Linked DNA regions of Homo sapiens: region 1 is linked to region 2. Evidence: fine-mapped expression QTL. A gene starts in region 2. The other region holds a variant in brackets. All regions are shown on one strand. Distances are from middle to middle.

The links.
Region 1: its variant is fine-mapped to the expression of LIX1 in putamen (GTEx, PIP above 0.99). The same link has a PIP of 0.9 or more in anterior cingulate cortex, caudate, cerebellar hemisphere and prefrontal cortex.

The regions. Positions count from the first base shown.
Region 1 is chr5:97,100,443-97,103,357 of GRCh38, reverse strand. The region is part of intron 4 of LIX1 (limb and CNS expressed 1); the gene reads left to right. It overlaps LIX1-AS1 (LIX1 and RIOK2 antisense RNA 1), which reads right to left. Exons shown (of 8, transcript NR_187470.1): 6 at 1,226-1,599; 7 at 264-332. Among named protein-coding and RNA genes, the nearest start is that of LIX1-AS1, 28 kb to the right of the region's middle. The variant C/T (reference allele first, on the strand shown) is at 1,600.
Region 2 is chr5:97,141,240-97,144,154 of GRCh38, reverse strand. LIX1 (limb and CNS expressed 1) reads left to right here and starts at 1,544. Exons shown (of 6, transcript NM_153234.5): 1 at 1,544-1,660. The coding sequence starts at 1,579. RefSeq lists an enhancer at 1,528-1,597.

The DNA of each region.
Region 1 (2,915 bases), 41 kb after region 2:
ACTATTATTAGATGTATTTCTGAAGGAATCTTTGCTTGAAATGCCAGAGGCTACTGGATGGATTCCGTTGACAACTCTGTCTAACCTAGCTCTATTTGAACCTACACAAAATGGTTCAGAGCCCCTATTGTAGGATAAAAGAGTCGATCTGTAAAAGGTCCTTTTTTTTTCATAACAATCTAAAACTAAACAGAGGAATAATACTTTTAAAAAGAGGTATTTTTTCAAGAGAAAGAATATAAACTTTAAAAAGTCATACAGACCTATGTGTGAAGTCTGCTCTACCACTTGCCATCTGTGAGCTTGTCCATTCTGAGACTCAGTTTTCTCATCTATAAAATAGGAATAATAATGCCCATTTTGTAGAATTTTTGCGGGATTTAAGTAGTGTAACATTTATAAAGCATCTGGCATAATGCTTCCCCTAAGCAGGAATTTCATTTAATTCCTGTTCCCCCTCCAAATAATATTGTAGTTCTTTTATTATGGAATGAACATTGCCTGCCCCAGTACACAGTAGCTTGTATGTGATTTAGCGCTATTTTTGGAAAAATTAAGAATGATTTTGAATGTGATTGGTTTAGTCTGCCAAAGATGGGGGAAGGTGAGATTTAAAAAAAAAAAAAAAGTCTTAAAATTCCTTCCAAGTACTATGAAAGGCTCTACTCAACCTTCTTTTAGTAATAGTTTAATTGCTTTGCATAGGCTATGTGTTTTCTGTGTGGTCTGTAGTAAGGTATTTAAATTTGTGAAATAATAATTTGAATCTTACTGTGGACATGCTTCATAAATTCTCCTAAAGGAGTCTGGATACAGGATGGAGACAAAGGAAGAGGAAGATGTGAGGGCAGGGAAAATCCAAACTCCCTTCCCTAGTAGGGATACTGGCAACCCAGGAGGAGGGCCTATGGAGCGCATCCCTTTTCCTTCCACCAGCCCTAGCTTGCCTGCTGGGACCTGGCACATTCCTTAGTGGCCTGGGTTAAATGCTTCTGCTTGTGTCTACACATAATGGGAATTGCCCACAGACCTGGGCTGTTTCTGCAGCCAACACAGCAATTCAGTACCCCTGGTGGGTAATAGATGTGTGTTTGTATCTAGCTATGGATGACTCTACCATATAAAAACAAGCTGGTGTCTCCAGACTGCCCTCGGGCTTTCGGGGCGGGGTGGGGGGGCGTCCTGCAGCCAGCACTCAGAGGAAACATGATAGGCCTCTGCTTACCTTCACTTCGTGGGAGGGAAGCCTGGATGCCTGTTTCGAGGTAGCTTTGCCACAGAGAAAATTGCCTGCTGTTGGTGGGGAAGGTTCGGAGCAGCACTAGTCACTGGGTCTTGTCAGGGTCAGATTCTAGGCAGACTTTGACTGAAGCTGGTTAATATATTTATTCTGAAGCCTAATGCAATCCAAGGAAGAGTTGTTTATTTACATCTTTGCTAAATTTTCCAGGTCGCCTTTTAAAACTTCATCCCATAAACAAATTTCCTCTTAAATCCATTCTCTTGGGTGGGGAGATGGTGCCCACCTCTTTTTCAAGTTCTCCATTTACAGTGTTTGTTTTTCTTATTTCTGATGAATCACAGAGCCAAACCCGTCTC[C/T]TAGAAAGAGTTCCAAAGAGAAGCAGTGAGCATTTTCTCTCCACAAGTAGCTGAAAAGCCCAACATTGTTTCTAACAGAGGCAACCCCAGGAAAGGCTGTGAGGACAGAGCCCCGTTGTTGTCTGTTTACATGAAATGAATGACAAAATAAACCAGGAAAGCTGTAGAGTGAGAGCTGCAACTGAAATTTTCCCCGAAGAGGAAAGAAAACACACAGCTTGATTCTTCGTTCTATATTAAATTTACTCCGCTGGTCAGGACCAGCTAGATAATTTGCCAGGCCCAGTGCAAAATGAAAATCCAGGGGCCCTTGTTCAAAAATTACCAAGAATTTCAAGATAGCAGAGCACTAAACAAAGCAGGGGCCCTGTACAGCTGCACAGACCTCATGCCCATGAAGCTGGGCTTGCCCCTGAGACAGAGCCACAAGAAGGGGACAGACAAGGGCTAGGCAAGTGACACATTTCTCTTGGGTACAAAATTGAAAGGGATGCTTAAAAACTTCATAATCAAGATAAATAATATTATAATGCATTATTTTTTAAACTCAAAATTCATGCCAAAAATTCACGATAAACAAAATATCAGAATTATAAATAAAAGACCATGAACATGTATAATTGGCCCCACTCACTTTAAACCTTGCCTCACCTGCCTCACCTGCCTCACCTGCCTCACCTTATGAGGCTAACTTGTTTTTCTGTTGGTGCAGCTGGGCCCCTCAGGCTTCCAGATTACCCCACAAACAAAACACCACACCCCAAAAGACTTCCGTGAGGACTATGACAGACCCTCACAGGAAAAGACAACACTAATTTCCTTTATTTAAAAAAAAATTTATATATATTCTTTTTTTTTTTTTTTTCTGAGACAGAGGTCTTACTATTTCGCCCAGGCTGGGCACAAACTCATGATCTTCCTGCCTCAGCCTCCCAAGTAGCTGGGACATTCCACAGCACCTGACTACACTAACTTCCTTTAGAGTAACAGAGCTTCTCCAGGTAGAATATGAGCCAGCGAACACCAGGCAGCAAAGAATCATGGGGAAACTAGTAAGCAGAACTCCACAGCAGCCCTCTCCTTCCCACTCTGCAATCATGCAAGGATTTCCAATGGAATCAGTCAGAGGCATGCAAAGATTTCCTGGAGTTGAGCCAAGAGCTAATAGTTTTGGGAAAATGTGAAGAGAGTGAATTTGGTCTTATGAGGGGAAATAAAGAAGTGAGACAAAAAATATGTGAAAATATTTAAATATACTTTATATAATGATGGCAAGATGAATATCTCTACAGAGGACAAAAACTAGATGGGGATAT
Region 2 (2,915 bases):
TCAAGGCTGCAGTGAGCCCGGATCATGCCATTGCACTCCAGCCTGCATGACAAAGTGAGACTCTGTCTCAAAAAAAAAAAAAAAAAAGGATACAGCTAGGGACTAAATTAAGCCTTGCATTTGAATTCAGGAGCCACTCTTCTGGAAGCCAAGGCTTGTTACCCCCCACAACCCTCCCAAATTTTAGTCACTTCTATTGGGCAGGGGCAAGTAAAACCTGACAGACTGTCTTACAGCTTGCCTGGGAACATTTGTTTCCCTATTTACCCTTCAAAGTGAATCATTCCCAAGGTTGACTTTAATTAATTCTGATGTAATTCACTTCCTTTCACTTAATAATTATTAAAAATTTCAGGGCAGGGTGCAGTGGCTCACGCCTGTAATCGCAGCACTTTGGGGGCCCAGACAGGATGATTGCTTGAGCCCAGGAGTTTGAGACCAGCCTGGGCAACACAGTGAGACCCCATCTCTACAGAAAATTTAAAAATTAGCCAGGCGTGGTGGCGTGTGCCTCCCAACTACTTGGGGTGCTGAGATGGGAAGATTGCTTGAGTCCAGGGCTCAAGCCCCTCACTTGAGTCAAGGCTGCGGTGAGTTATGATCACGCCACTGCACTCCAGCCTGGAGGACAGTATGAGACCCTATTAAAAAGAAAAATAAAACAAAGAAACAGGACGAGAAAATACATATATGTTTCTTAAGGTAGTTATTGAAAGATTTTTTTAAAAAATTGAGACAGGGTCTTACTTTGTCACCAAGGCTGGAGTGCAGTGGCACAATCTGGGCTCACTGCAGCCTCGACTTTCCAGGCTCAAACCATCCTCCTGCCTTAGCCCTCCAAGTAGCTGGGATCACAGGCATGCACCACCACACCCAGCTAATTTTTGTATTTTTTGTAGAGTTAGGGTTTCGCCATGTTGCCCAGGCTGGTCTGGAACTCTTGGGCTCAAGCGATCTGCCCGCCTCAGCCTCCCAAAGTGCTGGAATTACAGGCATGATAAACTGCACCCAGCCCCATAATCTTTATAGCACTCCTTTACCAAAGAAGAATTACACTGAAAATTTAGATTTATAGGGATTATACTGTTAACATATAGCTGGCAGTCCTGAGCTGGAAGCTGTCTTGTCATTCAGGAAATTTCCTGGAGAAATAACCTTCCTGATTCCATATTCCTGGGGGCAACACAATTGAAGATGGAGGGCCAGAAGAAATACTCAAGTCAGAAAGCTGCACAGCATTCAGACAAAATCTGGTTGGAGAGGAAAGCTGTTTTCATAATTTAGCGAGCTTCCCCAGCTAGCCTGTAGGTGGGTGTGTTTAACAGAAGAAAGCAATGGGAACCCGCCTGTCAGCCAGCCTTTCGAGCTAATTAGCTCAGCATACAACAAAGATAAGTGAGCCTGGGAAGAGGGCCCCCTGAGGGGTCTTTAGATTCTGGGAAATGTCTGATTGGCAGATGTTAAAAGGGATTCCTTGGTAATCCAGTGCATCAATGAGCTGCAGAAATTCAGCCCAGGACTGCAAGAATTCAGGCATGAGGACACTCTGTACAGGAGGCTCACACAGGCAGACCCAAGATGGACAGAACCTTGGAATCTCTGAGACACATCATTGCCCAAGTCTTGCCTCACAGAGATCCGGCTCTAGTCTTCAAAGACTGTAAGTACTGAAGGGGGAAAAGTTTTTTGACTTTTTAGAAAATAGTCCTAAACGTCAAGTCACATCCTATTTAAGTAAGATTTCTCCTAAATCTCTGCAGTCGTATGCTGTGTTCTAAGTGATATTTTAACTTGTTCCTGACTTCAGCCAGAAGAACGATTTCATTTCACCTACAGGCATTAGGCACTGGGTTATTCTGTCAGTGATACATCTTGCTAACTACTTAGAAGTCTCTTCTACAATCCAAGACCTGCCTAAGACTTAATGAACTTTTTCTGATGCTTTTTAAGTAAAGCAAAGCTGACTGGTGTTGAGATTAAACCTAAAAATAATTTGGAAATGATACTAGAATATATCAATATTTGTTAACCTGTTTAATACTCCACAACACATATTAGCTATGTTAATTCAAGTATCGTGTTTGTCTGAAAATATTTGTTGCAAACCAGAATTAACAGTAAATCACCACTGAACTTTTAAATTTTGATAACAGATTATAATGCTTTAGTTAAAAGGCCAATAAAATGAGATGCCTCCTAACCTCAGCAACACTCCCTGTGTGGACCCCCTACCACCATCACCAATTTATACAGCATGGCAAAGTTATTTCAAAATCTTTTTTTTAATGATTTAAAAATAATTCAATCAAGATTTCCAATTCTAGCAATACTATTAAACCATTTGTCATATAACTTCGTTTCTGGAACCAATTTGATTTCCTGCTGCTGCAAAACAGACTATCTTCATGTTGTATCTTATCTACAGTGGGTTTCATATTACAAAGGGCTTCTGAAATAGAACTGCCCAAAAGGTAAAATGCATATGGAATTTTTTTTAACTTCAATAGGTTGCAGCTTTCCTCTTTGTGAATCTAGTTGTGTTTGTCTCCATCAAAACATCAATGGTTTGAATTTTTGCTTTCTGATTGCTGAATAACGTTCCATTCCAGATGTCCTCTTAGCTTAGATTTCTCATATGTATGTTGAAGAAAGAGGAATGTTAGGCCATTTAATTCTATAAATTTTTCCTCTTAGATGTTAAATTGTAACCAATCTGTCCTTTAAGGCATAAAGTGAAAGCCTTTTCTTTCTCTAGCTCTCTTTTTAAATATTGTCTTTAGGCATTTGCCAATAACTATGTTAGATCTAATAAAAATCACTCTCTCCACTACTCTAGCCTGGAGTCTATTCAGGTTTGTTATGTTTTTTAAGCGAAAAGGGGAGGAAAGAATGTCTCTCTCCTACAATAGAACTGA